4 separate regions of the Homo sapiens genome follow, and regions 1, 2 and 3 are each linked to region 4. Evidence: fine-mapped expression QTL. A gene starts in region 4. Each other region holds a variant in brackets. All regions are shown on one strand. Distances are from middle to middle. Region 1 has its middle 150 kb from the start of RPS6KA3. Region 2 has its middle 51 kb from the start of RPS6KA3. Region 3 has its middle 130 kb from the start of RPS6KA3. Region 4 holds the start of RPS6KA3 (ribosomal protein S6 kinase A3).

Evidence for each region.
Region 1: its variant is fine-mapped to the expression of RPS6KA3 in whole blood (TOPMed, PIP above 0.99).
Region 2: its variant is fine-mapped to the expression of RPS6KA3 in whole blood (TOPMed, PIP 0.98).
Region 3: its variant is fine-mapped to the expression of RPS6KA3 in whole blood (TOPMed, PIP above 0.99).

The regions. Positions count from the first base shown.
Region 1 is chrX:20,410,267-20,415,412 of GRCh38, forward strand. No RefSeq gene overlaps it. Among named protein-coding and RNA genes, the nearest start is that of RPS6KA3, 150 kb to the left of the region's middle. The variant C/T (reference allele first, on the strand shown) is at 2,873.
Region 2 is chrX:20,315,290-20,320,418 of GRCh38, forward strand. No RefSeq gene overlaps it. Among named protein-coding and RNA genes, the nearest start is that of RPS6KA3, 51 kb to the left of the region's middle. The variant C/G (reference allele first, on the strand shown) is at 2,661.
Region 3 is chrX:20,392,402-20,397,537 of GRCh38, forward strand. No RefSeq gene overlaps it. Among named protein-coding and RNA genes, the nearest start is that of RPS6KA3, 130 kb to the left of the region's middle. The variant C/G (reference allele first, on the strand shown) is at 2,794.
Region 4 is chrX:20,264,164-20,269,314 of GRCh38, forward strand. It overlaps RPS6KA3 (ribosomal protein S6 kinase A3), which reads right to left and starts at 2,746. Exons shown (of 22, transcript NM_004586.3): 1 at 2,401-2,746. The coding sequence starts at 2,469. RefSeq lists an enhancer at 977-1,026 and silencers at 2,207-2,466, 2,587-2,806, 3,228-3,522.

The DNA.
Region 1 (5,146 bases), 150 kb after region 4:
TGCAATGTTTTTTCTTTTTGCTACATATGATCTCCTCTATTAAGTAAATAGCTTAAATTGTATTCGGGTTACCTTGGAATACGTAGTATAGTAGCATTTTACCTGTCGACTGAAAACAATTTGCAGAGGAAAGCTGATCTAATGCTACCTCCTTGCTTAATTTGTGGCTTCTTACAGAATATAGGGTAAACTCATTTTCTTATATCCATGTCTCTCCACTACCTGTCCCCAGGAAACCTCTCCAATCCTATCATTACCAACCATTTGCTATTATGAAAATGATCTCTGAGTATGCTTTATTAATTTCTGCCTCCCTCTCTCCCTCTTCCTTCCTCCCTCCCTCCCTCATTCTCTCTTTCCTCCCCGTCCATCTCTTTCCTTTTTCCCTCCCTCCCTCTCTACTGGCCTCTTTCTAGTGCATACTCATTAAGCACCTACAGTATGGTGGACTTTACACTTAGCATGGTAGGAAAGATGAAATCGACAATGCAGCCCCCAGCACTGCAGGGGATGTGGACAGAAGCAACAGTACTTACAGTATCTATAATGGTGAATGAATTACCCAACTTTGCTTGAGGAGGTCAGAGAAGTTTTCAGAGAAATGATGACTTGTAAGCTGAGTTTTGAAGGATAATTGGGGCTCACCAGGTAGACAAAGCCAATACATTTATGGTTCACAGAAGCAATGGTACAAATGGAAGAGCAGAGGCAAGAAACACCACATCTGTGCTACCTCCCTTCTCCCTTCCCTCTCTGCCTTCCTTGCACACATATTTAGCGGGTGATCATGTGGCAAGCATCGCCCTAGGTCTCCAGAGACAACACTAGACAAGAAGGACAATATTCCTGTCCTGGGGAAACTTATCTGCTAGTTGTGAAATGACACATGATTTGCTGAGACTAACAGCTCCTATATCCCTAAACACTTCAAAAAATGTTTGGGACGTGTTGCATTCTGAATGCTGCCTCCTGGAGTTTCACGGTGCACAATTTCACAGTCGAGGCCCTGGGAAGTCCTTCATCAAGAAATCTGTTATCTTCATTTACTGTGGTTCTCAAGTGCATTTAACCAGGGGAACTTTGTTTTAAGTAGCAATTAATACCACACAAAGCCAGTTTTCTAAAGGAGTCACTGCAGGAAATGTTTGAGTGTTCGTTTCTTCCAATCTCATTGCCTATTGTATCAGTTGCGTGTTTTCATAATAATGCTGCATAAAAACAGCCACAGAACCTCCGTGGCATACAACGATAAGAACTCAGTGCTTGCACCCCTGGGGAGGTTGGTTAGGTGGCTCTGCTGACCTTGGCTGAGCTTGATCCTATGTCTGGGGTCTGGCTGGCTATTATAGCTGGGACAACTGGGATGAATTGGCTGCGCCCTGCTTGCCTGGGCATACACCTGGGCATATTTTCCTGGTGGTGACTGAGGCATAAAAAGGCTAGTGAAACTATGTAAGCAATTTTTCAGATCCCTGCTTTGTGAAGAATTTTAGCTTCCTAATGTCCAAAGCAAGCTACATGGCTGAGTCCAGAATTAAAGTGGCCGGGGATGGGGCACTGCAAAGTTTCATGGCAAAGAGTGAAGATACAGAGAACAGGGAGGAATTGGGGCCACTTTAGTACTTGACCGCATCTACCTAAGACCCCGACTCAGGTATCACCTCTTCCATGAAGCCTTTTCTGACTTTCTCAGACCCATATCCATTTCTTTATCTGAGACTTCCCACTGCACGTCCAGTACCTTACTGCCAAGTTAGGAGCTCTCTTAAACTCCCAGCTTGCTTCACATTGGCTCCCCTACATAGATGACAAATTCCTCGAGGGTAGAGACCATATTTTTTCTGTGTGTGTGTGGTATTTTTTTTTTTCCTTTTGAGACGGACTCTCACTCTGTTGCCCAGGCTGGAGTGCAGTGATGTGATCTTGGCTCACTGCAACCTCCACCTCCTGGCTCAAGCGATTCTCCTGCCTCAGCCTCCCGAGTAGCTGGGATTACAGGTGCCTGCCACCACACTGGGCCAATTTTTGTATTTTTAGTAGAGACAGGGTTTTGCCGTGTTGGCCAGGCTGGTCTCGAACTCCTGGCATCAAGTGATCTACCTGCCTCCCAAAGTGCTGGGATTACAGGCGTGAGCCATCGGGGGAAGACCATATTTCTTTTTTTTTTTCTTCTAAAAAAAGAAAAGGGATACACGTGCAGAACGTGCAGGTTTGTTACATAGGTATACATGTGTCATGGTGGTTTGCTGCATCTATTGACCCATTCTCTAAGCTCCCTCCCCTTACCCCAACCCCCAACAGGCCCTGGTGTGTATTGTTCCCCTCACTGTGTTCATGTGTCCTCAATGTTTAACTCCCACTTATGAGTGAGAACATGTGGTATTTGATTCTCTGTTCTTGTGTTAGTTTGCTGAGGATGATGGCCTCCAGCTTCATCCATGTCCCTGCAAAGGACATGATCTCATTCCTTTTTGTGGCTGCATAGTATTCCATGGTGTATATGTGCCACATTTTCCTTACCCAGTCTATCATTGATGGGGATTTGGGTTGGTTCCATGTAAATAGTGCTGTCTCCTGTGGGCTTCCCCTGAGGCTGGGCCCCTGTACTCCCGATGCCACTCAGATTTGTGCCTACAGGGCCAAGATCAGCTCGGCGAGGTTGGGGGTTGGTGGGGGGGGACTGGCACTTGTGTCAGAGAAATGCCAGAAAAGCTCTGCCCAAGAGCCGGAAGTTGCGTCTGTGTGTATGTACTTCTTTGCTTTTGTTGTGTTCTCAGCCCTCGCAGGGACTCTAACCACTTCCCCCTGAACTTCAGGCCGTACGGGAACCTCACCTCTCTTGCGGTAGTGGTCCTTCTAAATTCGGGCCACT[C/T]GACTCATTCCTTCCTGTCTCATTTTGTTCTTCCTGCCTCTTCTGTGCATGGGGGCTACATTACTGATGCTGCGGTTGCCCAGTTGGAGAGGAGAGCAGTAGTATAAGAAAAGCACCCTGGACCTGTGCCCCTCAAAGCGAGGTCCCTGGGCCAGCAGCATCGGCTTTACCTGAGAACTGCTTAGAAATGCAGACTCTCTGGTGCCACCCCAGACCTCCTGGATCTGCCTCTGTATTTTAACTGGACCCCCAGAGGTGTCGTCAAGCCTGAGAAACACCAGCATCTGGTTACAGCTCGCCAGCCCTTTAGCTCTGTAACCTGGCAAGTCTCTTCGCTTCTCTGTCGGACACACTGATTTCCCCTGTGTCAAATTAGATGCATTTAATTATGTGGTAATTCAGATTACTTTGTTGCTTCATCAGAGAAGTACAAAGGTGTGGGAAGTGGCAGAAAATCATATTGTGCACAAAATCAAGAACTTTTAGAGCTGGAAAGAACTTGATTGACCACCTCCTCCAGTTCCCTCTTGTTTTATAGCCACTTAAGGTCAAGCCTTGCTAAGGAGAATGTCAGTCTCCTCCATCCTTCCAGGAGAAACACAGCCCCTGCAGTCAGAAGAGACAGGAAGGCCACATGAGACAGGAGGGAATGAGCCGACTGGCCTGAATTTAGGAGGACCACTACCATAAGAGAGGTGATGTTCCCATATGGCTTGAAGTTTAGGGGGAAGTGGATCCCTGATATGAAAATTGTGGTCCCTGAACCAGTAGCATTACAGTCACCTGGTAAGAGAGGCAGTGGGTGGTGTGCGAGAAATGCGGATTCTCAGGCCAAGGCTCATACCTACTTGATAAATAGAGTCAAAATCTCTATATACCAAGAACCCCGGATGATCTGTAAGCACAGCCAAGTTTGGGGAGCGCTGGGCTAAATGACGCAGTCACTGGGAATGCTTGAAGACAAATGAAGCCCAGAATAGAAGCGTCATTTCCCAAGTAGTAAGAGTGCTGGCCCTGGAAGCAAAGAAATGTAGATTTGAATTTCAACTTGCCACTTCTAGACTGTGGTTTTGAGAAAGGTACTTAACCCTCTCTGAGCTTCAGATTCCTCATCTGTAAAAAGTGTGAAGCAATTAGCATGATGTTTGGCACTCAGGAAGTGCTTAGTAAATGTTAACACAACAGGGCTTCATGGCTGAAAGCACAGACTTTGCAGCCAGAGTGCCTGGGTTGATAATCCTGGCTCTGCCACTTCCTAGCTGGGTGACCTTCAGCAAGTCACTTAACCTCTCTGAGCTCCAGGTTACTCATCTGCAAAGTGGAACTCACAATAGGGTTGTGATGACAATTTCATGGGTTAATATCTGTAAAGCATTTAGATACAGTCTGGCACATAGCAAGAGCTAAGTGTCTATTAAAAATTATATTGCTATTTTAGAGACTTGATGAAAGGAAGAGAGCCAGGCATACATGTTTTTTTTTTTTTTTCAAGCTTCAATAAAAGAGGAGTCTATTTCTCCCTCATGTAAAGAGAGTCAGGAAGTGCGCAGCCCTGTGTTGGCTTTCAGGCATCCACAGGACCTAGATGCCTCCATTTGACTCTGCCATGCTCATCCTGTGGATTCTGTCCTTATGGTGGAGAGAGGCTTGTGCAGCTCTCACTCCTGTACCCAGGTACAAGGCCAGCAGCAGAATGAAACAGCTGAGGAGGGTCAAGGGGTTCTGGATTAGTGGTGTATTGCTGTGTAATAAATTACCTCAACACTTGAGGGCTGGATATGATAAACACTATCTCACAGTGTCTGTGGCTCATCATCGGGAGCGGCTTAGCTGTGTGGTCGTGGCTCATGCTCTTACAGGCTGCAATCAAGGTGTCGGCAGGGGCTGCAGTCATCTCTAGCTCAACTGGGGAGGATCCACTTCTGAGCTCACTTCTGCAGTTGTTGGCAGGCCTCACAAGGTCCCCTTTCAAGCTTACTTATGTAGGCCCCTCCAGAGGGCTGCCTTATGACATGGCAGCTGGCTTCTCCCATTAGAAATTTAGCCCACACTCAAGCGGAGGGGGTTGTACGAGGGCCTAAATCCCAGGAGGTGGCATCATAGGGGCTGCATAGCACAGGCCTCTTCCCAGTGACTCAGCTTCCCTCAAGCAGCCTTCCTGGAATTCCCACACAACACTTTTGTTTATAGCTCACAGGTTGGAACTTAGTCACGTGGCCATACCAAGTTGCAAGAGAGGCCGAGGAATAGAATCTTTTAGCTAGAGGCATTTTC
Region 2 (5,129 bases), 51 kb after region 4:
GGTAGGGCTGGATCAGAGTGGAGACAAAGAAAGGGGTGGCTGTGAGTGGCAGGGAAGAAAGCCTCAGAGGCAAGGAAGCCCAGGGCATGTTCAGGAAATGAAGAAATCTGAAGTAGCTGAAGTCAGGGGAGGAGAGTCTCAGGGGAGGAGAGTCACAGGAGAGTGAAAGATGAGTGTCTGTCAAAGCAGGTTGGGGCCTGCTCAGAAAAGGCCTGGACAACTTTGCAAGTAGTGTGGCCTTCACTCCATGCATAGGGATGAGGTTTTAAAGCAGAAAAGTGATTTTGAAGGGTGAATTTTTTTCCTTCCTAAATTAATATTAAAAAATACGTTATAAAAGTCTGAAAAGCCAGGGTACATAAAGGATAAAAACCTGATATTCACCACTATCACTTTCATATGTCAACTCTGAGATACTTTTTTTTTTTAAAAAAATTGAGATATAACTCAAATGCCATCAAATTAACCATTTCAGAGTATACAATTCCGTGGGTTTTAGTATATTCACAAGGTTATGGAACCATCGCCATTAATTCCAGAATATTTACATCACCTCAAAAAGAAACCTCATACCCATTAGCAGTCACTCCTCATTCTCCCTCCCCTGGCAACCACGAATCTACTTTATGTCCCATGGGTTTTTCCAGAAATACTTTCCTATGTGTATATTTATAAACACACACACACGTTTCTCTCCCCCTTCCCACATGCAAGTTGAATTGTCACATACTGCTTAATAAGCTGTGTTGACTCTGATATCAGGAATATATCAGATCCATTTGTGAAAAATTAGTCTGGGTGTCAGGGCCAAGGACGGATTGGAAAAAAAGAGGTTGGAGGCAGTGAGACTGTTTAGCAATGCCTGCAGTAGGGGAGGTTACGTGGGCCTGAACTAGGATGCCAGCAGGGTAGTGGATGCTGTGGTGAGCCTCTAAGATCCCCACTCCAGGAATGAGACACTCATTACCCCAGTGGCAGGAAATGTTGGTGACTGATGGCTTTCAGTGGAATTTCTTTCTGGGACTTGCTCTCAGCTGAAGAGACCTTACTAGCTCCAAATCACAGACTTTCTCTGGAGCAGCCCACATCTAATAATTCGTCAATGGTGCGAGGGGGTGTTACAAAGGCCCAGGCACTGTTCCCAATTTGGAAAATCAGCAAAGGTCCATCCTGGCTCCAGAGCTCCCCTTAGGGTCAACTGATACTTTTATTATGACTGTGTTGTAGCCCAACTCCTCCCTCTGCCTACTCCTGCTGCCCTTACTGCCCCATAGGTGCTGTTCCTGAGAGCATTCCTAATCAAATTCCTGTATTTAAATCTCTATCTCAGAGTCTGTTTTCCAGGGCACACAACCTGTGACAAGCAATGAGGATGGAAAAGAAGCTGGCGTATGTGGATGTCTTTCTGAAGCAATTGACTAGATGGAGCTTGGTGACTGATTAGCTATATAGGGTGGAAGGGGTGGAAGAGCTAAAGAGAAGAAACAAAACACACACACACACATGATTTACATATGTACTTATATATATGTAATATACACACACACATATACATCATATACATGTAAATATATCCTTAGGCACTTGCTCAGTGTCTACTTTGTGCCTGAAACAGTTCTGGCAGCTGAAGATGCAAGATGGATTAGATCCGGTTCTTTTATTTAGAGAATCCACAGTGTTTTAGGGCAGAGAGTAAACAAGTAATTCCAATACAATTCGTTGAGCATTATGTTAAACTATAGGGAAAGGTGATGAGAAAATATTAAGGGAGTGAAGGCATTGCCAAGGTTTTAAGCTGGGGTGTTTTGAAAGATGGTAAATCCATCATGTGACATGGAGAATGCAGATGAGAGAGAATGTAATTAGAAAATAAAAATCGAGGTTAATATGTTCCCTGAAAAGTTAGAAATATGGGTTTGGAACTCCTGAGAGAGGTCATGAATAGAAATATATATTTAGGTGGTGTCTATATAGAAATGATAGCTAGTGCCTCAGGAGTGGATGAGATTGTCCAGGGAGATCAAAGAAGATGAAAACTTGAGAAAGATCTACAGCAGAGCTGATGTCTGAAATCTGCCCACCCTATGCCAACACCCATGGCAGACGTAGCTAAATTACCACACAGCCTCAGAATCCTTCTCAATGCATGACTTCAGGCAGCTATTACCAATAGATCCACTTACCATTTCTGGTTTCTTCTCAAAGTCTAGGTGTAGTGACCAGGAACAATGGCGGGCCTCCAGGGAAAAGTGAGCTGCTTGGTTATTAGGAGTGCAGAGAGCACCCAGGAAGGTAGGAGAAGTACTAGGAGAGCAGAGGATCCCAGAAGGAAGAAAAGTGTTTCAAGAAGAAGGAAATAATAACATTAGTCAAATGACTAAGTTGAGGACTTGAGGAGACAATGGAATTTGAAGTGGAGGGCAGTAGTGACCTTACAGAGAACAGGTCCACTAAAGTGGTTTTGAGAGAAGTGAAATGACAAAAGTTTGAGAATGGGAAGTATTTCCAAGTGCTCATCTATAAATGGACTGCTTGAGCCCATGTTGGCAAGCTTGTTGAAAATGCATTTCCAGGACTCACCCCAGAGCCATGACCTCAGGCTGTTCTCTGCCCCCCAAGGAACACTTTGATCAGGGTTATCTGCTACCGGTGGGTGCTCA[C/G]TGTAGCAGATGCTCTTAGTGTCCCTTTTACATGCATTCAGCACTCACTATTCAGTATATACTGCTTGCTTCACAAGGAAGCACATGTGATGTCTCTGCCCGAGGACTTTCCCTGGCCACTGGAGCATGCTTGACCTGCTGCCAGAAATGCCAGAGTTGATTTCCCAGGGATTAGCCCACAACCAGCGAAGGACATGAGTTGTTGGAGAAATCAATCAGCTTTTTCACGTCTCAGGTGGAACAACTTGGGGCTTGTTTTATACAGAAGTTTTATCCCAGAAGTCTCCAGTAGGATTGAGCCTGTGGCGCCCAGAGTAGGCTCATGAACACACTGTATTGGCTTCCTTCTTTTTTTTGACTTACTTCCCTATTCTCTTTGCATTTCCTGAGGTCACCTCTCACCTAAGCTATTAGTACCCATATCCCTGTCTCAGAGCTGGCTTTTGGGGGAACCCAAAACTATGATACTTACCGTCTTATTTCTTCTTCCTGGGCACACGGAACAACTACATATTCCAGTGGTAGTACGTATTGCTGTCGGTTGAGCCTATGTGACTGAAGTCATGGGCAGAGTGATCGATGTCACCTTCAGGCCTGGCCACAAAACTCCTGGTGTGATAATCCCTCTCAATCTTTCTTTCCTATGGTGATTTCAGAGGCCATGGGTTTAAGATGGCAGCCTCACAAGATAGCAGCTGATTTCTGAGTCACTAATTGGAAGACACCTACTAAGGAGAGCTGCCCCACCTGTACCAGATTTTGACATTAATGAATGAGAAATAAACCTTTACTATGTTAAATTGCTGAGACTTTTTTTTGTTACAGCAGCTACCATTAATTACCCTCATTAATACACCTGCCCTGTCAGCCTTCCTTCACCCAGTTCTCCAAAATTACTGCTCTTTATCCTCCTTTAAACGTTTCCATTCCCTCAGTGTGACTGACACAGTCATGGGTTTAACTGATTAAAGTGTACTTAATTGTAAACAATAACTACCAGATTTGCTTCTGAAAGATAGTTGTGTTTTCAAATGGATTCCTGATTGGTAGGATCTATGAAGGAGATGTTTCCAAATATTGGATCCTTCTTGGTGTCCTTCCACCATCATTGACACAGCCCACTCCCAGCTTGAACTGTGTTGTCTAGAAGCAGAAGAAAGAGGGGTCAGCACTTCTAAGCTGTTGCTGACCTCTGGCCTCTGCAATCAACTCCAGACTCCTTAACCTGGTATTTCCATGTGTCCGCAGTTGGCCCCAACTAACATTCCTACCCTGATCCTCCCCACCCCACTGCCAGTGAAACCTCTTAAATCATACTGCTCGCAACAGGGTGTGCTTTCCTACCTTGCCAGCTTGGGTCTCACTGTGCTCTCCACTTGGAGTGCTCTTTCTGCTCTTCTGCTCCTTTCCAAACCCAGTCCCTGCTCAAAGGCCTCACTCAACTTCCACCTCCTCCCTAAAGCCCTGAAATTCCATTTCGTCTTCCCTTTGCCGCTACTACTCATTTGGTCTTCAGCATTTGCTGCTTATCATGATTTCTGTCTATTTATGTGTTTGTGTCCTCTCTTCTAAAGTAGAAATGAACTACTTAAAGAAAAAATTATGCCTATTTCTCTCTTCAATCTCTACAGCATTTTAGCATAGTGCTGGAGACATGATTACTGAAGATAGATGGATGAATATGGATATAACAATTGAACTTGTTAAATATCACAAATGCAAAGTCTTGTGCAGACATCCTTTTTTTTTTTTTTTTTTTTTTTTTTTTTTCCTGAGACAGGGTCTCACTCTGTCACCCAGTCTGGGGTGCTGTGGTGTGATCATAGCTCACTGCAACCTCGAACTCCCGGGCTCAAGCAATCCTCCCACCTCAGTCTCCCAAGTAGCTGGGAATTCAGGTGCTCACTGTTACACCTGGCTAATTAAAAAAATTTTTAGTAGTGATGTGGTCTCTCTGTGTTGCCCAGGATGGTCTCGAACTCCTGGACTCAAGTGATACTCCTGCCTCAGCCTCTCAAAGCAGTGGGATTACTTTCAGTGGGTATAAGCCACCACACTTGGCCCAGACATGATTAAAAAAAACACTTTCATTCAGAAATAATTTTAAACTTACAGAGAAGTTGCAAGAATAAAAATGGTACAAATATCATCTACATATGTTTTACCTAGATTCACTTACTGTACACATTTTACCTCATTTACTTTAGATCTGCCTGTATATCTTCTCTACACACACACACACACACACACACACACACACACACACACACAAACACACACAATGCTTTTCTGATGCATTTGAGAGTAAGTTACATACATTATGGGTCTTTAATACTTCAGTGAGTATTTCCTAAGAATAATCTGTTACCTAATCACAATAGAGTTATCAACTTCCATTTGATTAATATTGATACAACACATTTATTTAATCTTTTGTTCTCATTCCAATTTTGTCAATTGACCCAATAA
Region 3 (5,136 bases), 130 kb after region 4:
GGTAAACTTGTGTCATGGGGGTTTGTTGCACAGAATATTTCATCAACCAGGTACTAAGCCTAGTAGCCATTCATTATTTTTTCTGCTCCTCTCCCTCCTCTTACCCTCTACCCTTCTTCGCCAAGTAGGCCCCAGTGTGCATTCTTCTCCTCTATGTGTCCATGTGTTCTCACAATTTAGCTCCCACTTACAAGTGAGAACGTGTGGTATTCGGTTTTCTGTTCCTGTGTTAGTTTGCTAAGGATGATGGCCTCCAGCTCCATCCATGTTCCCGCAGAAGACATGATCTCATTCTTTTTTAATGACTGTATAGTATTCCATGGTGTATAGGTACCATATTTTCTTTATCCAGTCTATTATTGATGGGCATTTAGGTTGATTCCATGTCTTTGCTATTGTGAATAGTGCCACAGTGAACATATGTGTGCATGTGTCTTTATGTAGAACAATTTATATTATTTTGGGTATACACCTGGTAATGGGGTTGCTGGGTCAAATGGTAGTTCTGTTTTTAGCCCTTTGAGGAATTGCCACACTGCTTTCCAGAATGGTTGAGCTAATTTACACTCCCACCAGCAGTGTATAAGTGATCCCTTTTCTCTGCAGCCTCACCAGCATCTGTTATCTTTTGACTTTTTAATAATAGTCTTTCTGACTGGTGTGAGATGGTATTTCATTGTGATTTTGATTTGCATTTTTCTTTTCTTTTTTTTTTTTTTTTTTGAGACGAAGTCTCGCTCTGTCACCCTGGCTGGAGTGCAGTGGCGCGATCTCAGCTCACTGCAAGCTCTGCCTCCCGGGTTCACGCCATTCTCCTGCCTCAGCCTCCAGAGTAGCTGGGACTACAGGCGCCCACCACTGCGTCCGGCTAATTTTTTGTATATATATATATTTTTTTAGTAGAGACGTGGTTTCACAGTGGTCTCGATCTCCTGACTTCGTGATCTGCCCGCCTCGGCCTCCCAAAGTGCTGGGATTACAGGCGTGAGCCACCGTGCCCAGCCTGATTTGCATTTTTCTAACGATCAGTGACGTTGAGCTTTTTTTTCATGTTTGTCGGCTGCATGTATGTCTTCTTTTGAGAAGTGTCTGTTTATGTCCTTTGCCTGCTTTTTAACGAGGTTGTGTGCTTTTTTCTTGTAAATTTGTTTAAGTTCCTTATAGATGCTGGATATTAGACTTTTGTCAGATGCATAATTTGCAAAAATTTTCTCCCATTCTGTAGGTTGTCTGTTTATTCTGTTGATAGTTTCCCTTGCCATGCAGAAGCTCTTTAGTTTAATTAGGTCCTAACAATAAAAAATTGGAAATTGAAATAAACAATATCATTTACAATATTGTCAAAAACGTGAAATATTTAGGTATAAATGTAACAAAATATGTGCAAGATTTTAATGCTGAACATTAGAAAACATTGCTGAGAAAAGCTAAAGACCTAAATAAATGGAGTGATATAGCACATTTATGGATTGGAAGACTCAATATTAAGATGCCAATTCCCTCTGATCTATAGATTTAATGCAATCCCAATAAAAATCCCTGCAGAGTGGTGGAAGTTTGGAAGTTTGGAAGTTGATTCAAAAATTTGTATTCATGTGCAAAAATACAGCATCAGCTTTGTTAGATAAAATAATGCCGGAAAACATTTATTGAATGTTTACTGTGTGCCAGGTATTGCTTCACATACTTTGAGTGTATTGAGAAATCTAGTTTTCACAACAATCCTCTGAGGAAAGAAAACAGTCTTATCCCAGTTTATTGATATACAAACAGAGCACACAGAGTGAGAGTAACTTGTTTGAGTTTATCAGCTTTTGGTTTGGAGAGTTTGCCATTGAACCCAGGCAATTGGAATCCAGAGTTCAGCCTTTTAATTACCTGTAATCACCAGTTTCTGTATCAACTAGCTATTGTTGCAACCAACCACAAAAATCTCAGTGGCAAATGATAATAAGCTTTAAGTTTCCACATGTCTGCAGGTTGGTGGGGGCAGCTTTACTGATTTCAGCTAGACTCAGCTGGGTAGCTCCAACTGTAGGGTGAGTTGAGGGTTTCTTCATATGTCTCTCATCCTTCTTGAATTATTGGCTTAATCATGGTCTGTTCTTCTCATGGCGATAAAAGAAGCAAGAAAGAGGGACTCCCATCAGAACTAAGGCCCACATCAATCTGTCTCCTATTTTGGGCTTTAATTGCCCAAGTCAAGGGAGGGAAAAGTAGAAAACGGAAGGTCTCTTTTGCAAGGCAAGGAAGTCCCGCCCTGATGTGCTCATAATGGGGAAAAGAATGCAAGGCCTAGGAGCTCCTTCCATAGGCCGGCTGGATCAAGAAAGTCAGATGAAGAGGGGGGGCATTTCTGCTCACTGACATTTTTGCCACCTGAGGAAAGATGAATGGATGTCAGACTTCTGTCTGTATTCATGAAATGTCTCATGGAGGAGGGGAGTGTGGGGTGAAAGCTTCTGTCTACCCCTTCTACCGCTTCTGAGGAAGTGTTAGGAGAAGTTACTATGTAAGGGCCAAGGAGGCACAGAAAGAGAATAACCTTTTCTCGTATAGAAGGCAAGGACTGGGTTCTTTACATCTTAGTATCCCTCTTCTGACATGGAAGTTTCCTAAGAAGTGTAGTCGAACAATAAGTGAAATTCGCATTTTCCATTCTTGAAGAAGAACCTCCAAAATTTCCCTCTCTGAAACCTTACTTCCTGGGGGTTCCACTTGGCCTGGCAACAGAAACCGTGTTTGCTTTCTGAAGAGTATTTTGGCCATCTGTTTTGGTTGCCCTGAGTTACT[C/G]CAATATAGCCGCGAAGAAGCTTGTCCTGCTGAGGTTTATCACTGATTGCAAAACTAACCCTGGCTAGCAAAACTGGCAAATTCTGCTTAGTGAGTGTGTGTTTTTGTTGTGTGTATGATGTGTGTGTGTGTGTGTGTGTGTGTGTGTGTGTGTGTGTGTGTGTTTTGAGCAGAGTTTCCATAGAAAAAAAGAAAGGCAAGATGTTGCCCAGCTGTATTGTCCTGGCAGGACTTCTTCACATAATTCTCCTGGAAGTTTCTGCAATGTTTCTTTCCCTTCCTGTCTCCCTGTTTCTATAGAACTGTGAAGATTTACTGAGTCTCTCCAGCTGTAGCCTAAATTCCTCACTGAGACAGTTTCAGACTGCCTATTCTGAGGTGGGAAGGTGTAGGATGGGAGGTGGGGAGGCTTGTGCCCTTATTATATAAACTGATCATTATTGGAAGAAAAAAAGCTGAATCCCTCAGAAATGTTAAGACGTCTGCTTTGACCACACCCTCAGAAGCTAGCACTATTGCTCTGGGTTAAGGGCAATAGCATTTCTTGTAAGCCAGTTTTTAACCTCTTTTGAACCCTCAGCGGCACAGAATTTCAGGGCTTGACTACAGTGGATTCTATCTGAAATGGCCTTCAAGAATTGTTCCACAGAAATACATGGACAGAAATAGGTGTTCTTTGGTCAAATTCAGTGTGGGGAATTTTCAGTCTATATGACTCTTCCAAAAAAATAGTCCAGAAATATGTAAAATGATTTGAATTGTTCCCATTTAGTTCAAATTCTACTACTCTGTGAGCTCCTTAAGATCAAGAAATGTGCCTTGTGGTAATTCAGCACTTAACAGACACCTGGCAGAGATAATAAATGTGAGTGAATGAATGCATGAAATAATGAAATATCACATCCTCAATAAAGTTTTTTCCTCCCTGAAATAACTAGCATTTCTGGGAATTTTGTCATTAAAAAAGTTCCGCTTCAATTGCCAACTACTATATCATTTATAAAATTATTACTGCACAGAAATTATCTATTTCTGTGTAACAAACTACCCCCAAATTTAGTAGCTTCAAAATAATAACCATTTATTATTTCTCATGATTTTCAGGGTTGACTGGACTCAGCTGAGTAATTCTTCTGCTTCATGTGATATTGACTGGGCTGTAATCAACTAGGGGCTTGACCGGGCTGGGCATCACAATGGCTCACTAACATGGCAGATGGCTTCCAAAAGGGAGTGTCTTAAGTGTGACTATTTGAAGAGAGAGGAAACAAAAGTGGAAGCTGCCCAGTCCTCTTACAGGGTAGGCAAAGAATTGGCTCAGTACTATTTCTGCTGCCTTCTGTTGGTAAGCAGCCACGGAGCCATCCCTGATTCAAGGGGAGGGGAAATAAACTCCACCTTTTGAGGGGAGAGTGACAAATAATTTCTAGCCATCTTTAATTCACCCTATTGTCTATGTAATAATTGACATGGAGAATAAAACAATGGTAAGAGGCGAGAGTAAAGTAGGATGAGTGAAAAGATTGCATCAGGGGAGCGAACTAGTTAATTAGATTGGATGTTGGTAAACAATTAATCTGAATTAATTGAAAGCCGAGCCTGACATGAATATTGTAAAAGAGATTGCTGAAAAATCAATAAACATCTTTGAAGAATTATGGAAAGCAGGGATGTCCCAGAAATCTGGAGACAGGTAAATGTCATTGCCATTTTCAAAAATGTAAAGAAAGTGGAATCACTGCAAAATTTGATTTTGATTCCAAGCAAGATGCTAAAAGATATTATTAGAATGACTAGGTTCAGCTGGATGTGTTAGAAATCAAAATAACAAAAACATAAAATATGGAAGATTATTTTTCTCTCTGTGTAAATAAAACATAGATCACAAGGCTGATATGGTGGCTTCACGAAGTCATTGAGGACTCATGTTCTTTTTAGCTCATTATTCCACCAGCCCTATTTCTCACGGTCCAAAGTGATGGCTAGAGTTCCAATGAATGCATCTACATTCCAGAATTTTTTTTAAAAGTGGAGAAGGGGAAATCATCCATCTAATCTTTTAAAGAGGTTTTCTGGATGCTGCCGTACAACCTCTGCTTATATCTCATTGACTAAACCTTAATTTTGGGTGGCCATGTGCTACCCTAAGAGTTGGAAGTTTTATTACAGAGAAGGGCAGGATGGATTTTAGGGTAGGCAACTAATAGTATCTGCTCCAGATGCTTTGTCCCTTCTGGTAGAATCCAGCATGCATTTTCTAAGAAATCATGGCAGAAATGCTAAGCTTTTAAGGCTGGAAATGTAGTTCCCCCTCCTCTCTGGGTTTTAGTAAATGGCATATGA
Region 4 (5,151 bases):
GGCAATTTGTTAGAATTTAATTTTAATAAATCTTGGCAACACTGGCTCTGTTTGACATACTTTATGCCAGGATAGCAAGAAAATTCTTTGAAAACAGCAAATTGTGGAATCCTATCTGTCAAGTTCTGGAAAACATGATAGTAACTGAAATAACAAGGCTTTACCAAATGAGACCTCTTATAATACTCTATTTGTTTCTGGAAAATAGATGACCTCTAACTACTGGCTTATTTATACCCCGAATTTTTCCACAAAAGATTTGGAACAGCTACCCTGATATAAAACGAAGCACATGAATTGTATCCACCTGGCTTTGAATTATGGCTCTGCCATTTACTATTTATCATCTTTGTACCTTTTAAATTCTGAGATTTGGTTTCCTAATCTATAACAATGGGGACCATAATCCTACCCTGCTGGGTCACAGGAAGGATAAAATGAAATAGTAATGTAGCACAGTACCTGGCATACAGTTGGTGCTAAATAAATATGTTTTGTCCTTCCTTATCCAAATGCATTCCAGATAGAAAAAGGATAAGGTGGAATTCTAAACGATATTGTTTTCCTATCACACTGATACATGCCAAGCAGAAATGTGGACTGATCTTGAGTTGCAATTGTTAATGTTTGTATGTAAAAGTCAGGCTCAAAGCAAATTTAATTTCTTTCCACAAGTTCAGTACTTTGCGAACATTTTATTAACCTTTTAGCTATATTATTTAATGCAAAAAATTTTCTGGGGAAAAATATGACGAGCTCTTGCATACTGTTTTTCACACTACCCATCTAAAGGATTATTAAACATCATAAATTTGGCTTTTTAATAAAATATTTATAGTATTAGTCTGGTTAACAATTTTAAATAAAGTTCTTGTGATTCTGCCAGTCTTAAAAACATGATTTCCTTTCTTTCTTTCCTTTTCTTTCAACATATATCAATGTCTTTTCCATTGAAGAGCAGCATTTAGTTCAGGTTTTACAAGTATGATCCAAGTCGCAAAATACTAAGCACCAATCATAAGCACTATTACAACTCTGCGTGCGTTAAGGAGAACAAGCAAAATTGTTATACAGCAGCGGAGGTGACTGGGGGAAAAAGTGAAAAGCGATTTGAACTGATCCCCCGCCCTCTCCATTATACCGGAGAATGCAAGTGTCCCGCATCTCAAGATTAAACTGAGCCTCGGTTTTACTGACGTAACCAGTAACCCTATCTACTTCTCACACTGCGGAGGCCGGCAGGGCAGCGGCTGCCGCCAAGCACACCACTCATCAGAGCCTGCCCCGTTCCACCCCCGCGTTTCAGTCATGCTTTCCAGAAATGGGGTCACTCACTCAGTAACTATTACACACACGCAGCCTATCATCCTGTAATCCCCTAAAGTCCGCTGCGGGGAGAGAAGGCAGCAAAAAGTCAAGAAGGAAGAATCACAGACGCGCCACCATCAGGAATTGATTTTCCACTCCGGAGAGGAGCGGTGATACCTTGGAACGGGTCTTGTCTGGATTATTTTCGCAGACCCCGAGTTGTTCTGGGATAGGGGCGGTTCAGGAAAGCTCGGTGTAGTGATGCGCCCGGGGAAATTCTGTTTTGCCCTGTTTGGGTATATTGTTTGGGTTTTGGGCACTAGGATGGGTGACTCAGGGACGGTCACCAGATCCCGGGCGAGGAAAACCAGAAAGCCTTTTACGGCGGCCGCTGATCTCCTTGAATATCACCCTCTCACCTCCATGGACAGGAAACTCAAGTTAAACTCACAGGGACGGGGGTCTAGCTCTGCGACCTCAGAAACGGAGGGGGTAGGGGACCTTAGGCTTCCGCTTTCTTCTTTGCAGCAGCAGAAACCGCTGCGGCAGACGAGGGGGAGGCAAAACCCTGCACCCCCTACCCGAAACCCCCACAGGTCGCCGCCGCCCGTGCCCCGCGCGCCGGTCTCCCCGCAGCAGCCCCTCCCTCGGCTGGACTCGAGAGTCCCTGCTCCCCGGTGAACCCGATCCCTACCCCTCCCTCATCTCCCAAAGTCGCCAAGGTCCGGGAAAGCCCCCGACCCGGCTGGGCCAAACTTCCCAACTCCCCGCCGGCCCCCGCTCCGCCTCCCGCTTCCCCCACGCAAAGTTGATTAAAATTGGCTTCTTGCAAAGCCCCAGCGCCCACTCCAAACCCCACGCGCCACCACACTGGCAGCCCCCCGAGCGAGGGAAGGAGGTGAGGGTGAGGATGGAAGGAACAGACAGACCGGCCAATAGACCCACCCCAACAACCCAAACCAAAACCCTGAGCCCGGGGGAAAGACGCGAGCGGGATCAGAACGGGCCGAGTGGCCAGCTCCGGGGAGCGAAGCGAGCCGGCGGGGGCGCGAGGAGGAGATGCGCCGGCCCCGGCCGCCCTGCTGCACTCACCTCAGCGCTGTCGGACGGGCTCTCCACAGCCATCTTCTGCCACGGGTCCGCCAGCTGCGCCAGCGGCATCTTCCCCCCCGGCCCGCCGCCTTCACCGCCTCCTCCCTCCCCGCCCGCCCCACGGCCGGCCCCGCTCCGTCGCCGCCCGAGCCCCACGGCAGCGGCGGCGGCGGCGGCGGCGGCGGCAGCGGCAGCGGCAGCGGCAGCAGCAGCAGCAGCGGCGGCGGCCCCAGAGAGGGCTCGACGCCGACGCCGACCGCCCGAAAGCCGCGCGCCTGGCCAGAGACGCCCGCGCGCTGAGCGAGAGCCTCGCGCCTCCGCTGGGCACCGGGTCTCGCCCCTTTCTTCCTCTCCTCCTTCCGCCGCCGGGACTACGGCTCCGCCCCCCCCGCCGGTTCCCGCGCCCGCTCCCAGCAGAACAGCGACCGCCGCGCGCTCCCCCACTTCCGCTCACAACATGGCGCCTAAGCGATACCTGTCTCTCAAAGCGAGGCTCGGCCGCCGCCACCACCGCCGCGCGCACCCAGGGGCTGGGCTAGTGGAAGACACGCCCCCGGCCGCTGCGCTCCGCTCCTCCCTCTTCCCACCCCCCTCCTTCTGCGCCCCAACCTCAGCTTCTGGGCCTCGCCTACTTTCAGGAAGGGCGAGCCCAACAGATCTGGGGGCGTCGGCGGGAGGCGGGGGAAAGAAATGGGAAAGGCAGGAGGGGCGAAGGCTGGGAGCCTTTCACCGCCAAGGGTCCAAGGAGGTCGGAGGCTCCTTGGGAATGAGGGAGAACAGTGGTCCCCGCCCAGCTGGGGAGGGAGGTGGGCAAAGTACCGGGGGCGCAGTCCCGAGCCAAGGACCCGGGGAGGGGTGCGGAGTGTCTTTTCGGCTTGTCTCCTCCGGGGGTGCGTGCGTGCGGACGCGCCTAGTCTCTGGGCGCATCCCGTAATGGCCCAAGACCCTCCCTCTTCAGGGTCACATGCTGGGAAATCACCTGCCCCCCATCTCCCCCGACGGAGGCAAGGGAGGCTTCGTGCCTAGGAGCCTCCTGGGGGCTCGGCTCCCGGTTTGATTCAAGTCTTTTCAAGTTGACGCTCTTTTGTTAAATTGTGGCTATTTGGGATTAATTCCTCTTGTATTAGTCGCTTCCCCCGCACCGCCCCCAGCCCAAATTCTCCTCCCCAAGTGCGCAGAGCTCTCGGCCTTCAGCTGCGACCCTGGAACCGCTGCCCCCCGCCCCACGTCTGCTACCTAAATCTTCAAGAGGGGAAAACAGGGAGGTTCCTTAAGGCTGTCCCTCTCGGTAGAGGTTGGAGAATTATTTAAAAATATCTTGTAGGCAGGAGCGCGGGGTTCCTGCTCCTCTGTTGACTTTAAATAAGAGATTAGATTTAAAAATCAGGCTGGCCGTGGGCGGAGGAGGAGGAGGAGGGGGACAGAGGGAGGGGAGGGGTTCTGACTCCTCCTCCTGCCCAAGATGGGGAAGCCCTGGATTAAGGAAACCCAATGCCCCGACGGCGACGGAGCCCCACAGGACGGCGAGAGCTTTGGGGGGAAGGCCTGGGCGTCCGGGGTGCGTCCCAAGAGGACTCGACCCTGTGTTCACTGCGCCAGGAGCCGCTGCGCGCTAAGTGCGCCCGGGCAGAAATGTGTAAAAGTCGCAGGGCTGAGTGGAAAGCTACTGCAGCCCCTGGCTAGTCGCCCAGCGAGGGGAAGAGAAAAAGCAAAGGGAGATCTCCGAGCCGGCCTGTCCCTTCAAACCCTCAGGCCGTGGCCCAGGCATCCCGGTCTTCCCACGCCCAGCGACCACGGCGCGTCCGCTGCTGCGCTCCCAGCGCACGCCTATTAACAGCTTCCTTTCATCCTCCCGGGACCCAGACACCTGGAGAACCCTCGCCTGCCTCCCTAAGCAGGTGTGAGGATGAGATTAGAGCCCCAAACCCAGCCGGCCAGGTCTGCGCGGGCGGTGCGAGGTTTCTCGCTGGGCCTGCGAGAGGCAGGTGTTGGGCTCTTTCTGCTGCCTTCGCCAGCGCGCCCCTTGGCACAGGCTCGAGGCCGGGGAACCTCGTGGCCATTTAGGGAGGCTCCAACTGTTTAGGGAGCCTGAGAAGGCGGCAGGAAGTCCTCGTTGCGCGCCTTCTCCCGAAGCTTTGGACTCAGGGGGACCGCTCAGGTTGGACAACATCTGGGCAGACTCAACGTGGTCTGGGGAAGAAGGCGAATGGGGCCACTTGGCTCTTGCCTTTGTCACTTCCCTTCACATGCTATATTCAGGTGTTGCAAATCCAACCTGGGCCCAAACTCAGCTAATTTGGCAGCACCTTCTCTGTGTAATTCCCGACGGTAAAACGTGCTTGCAGAAGTTTGGAGGATAAGGAGTTGTGTACTATTTTGCATTTATGTACAAAATGCTTTATTCATTTACATTGCAGAGTCACATGACCACTCCTTATAGCGAAAAGAAGTTCGTTAATTCGGTTGGCTTAAAGTAAATTAGCTCCCCCTACCCTTTGATCAATTATTTCAGTTAACATTCTTGCATTAGTAAAAACATACATAGTTGAAGAGAGACCGTTATGTGGCTAACACTGTTCAGTGCTAATTACCCCCACGCAAAGAATGAATATTTTAAAATAAAGCAAATTGTATGCCATTTTCAGTATCAACTTTTATTCATCTCTGTTAACCTTGAGAACCAGAGGAATAACTTTTAAAACAGAGTTACCTGATCTGTAAAAGTAATGTGAGCGGTGGTCACGTTTCAGT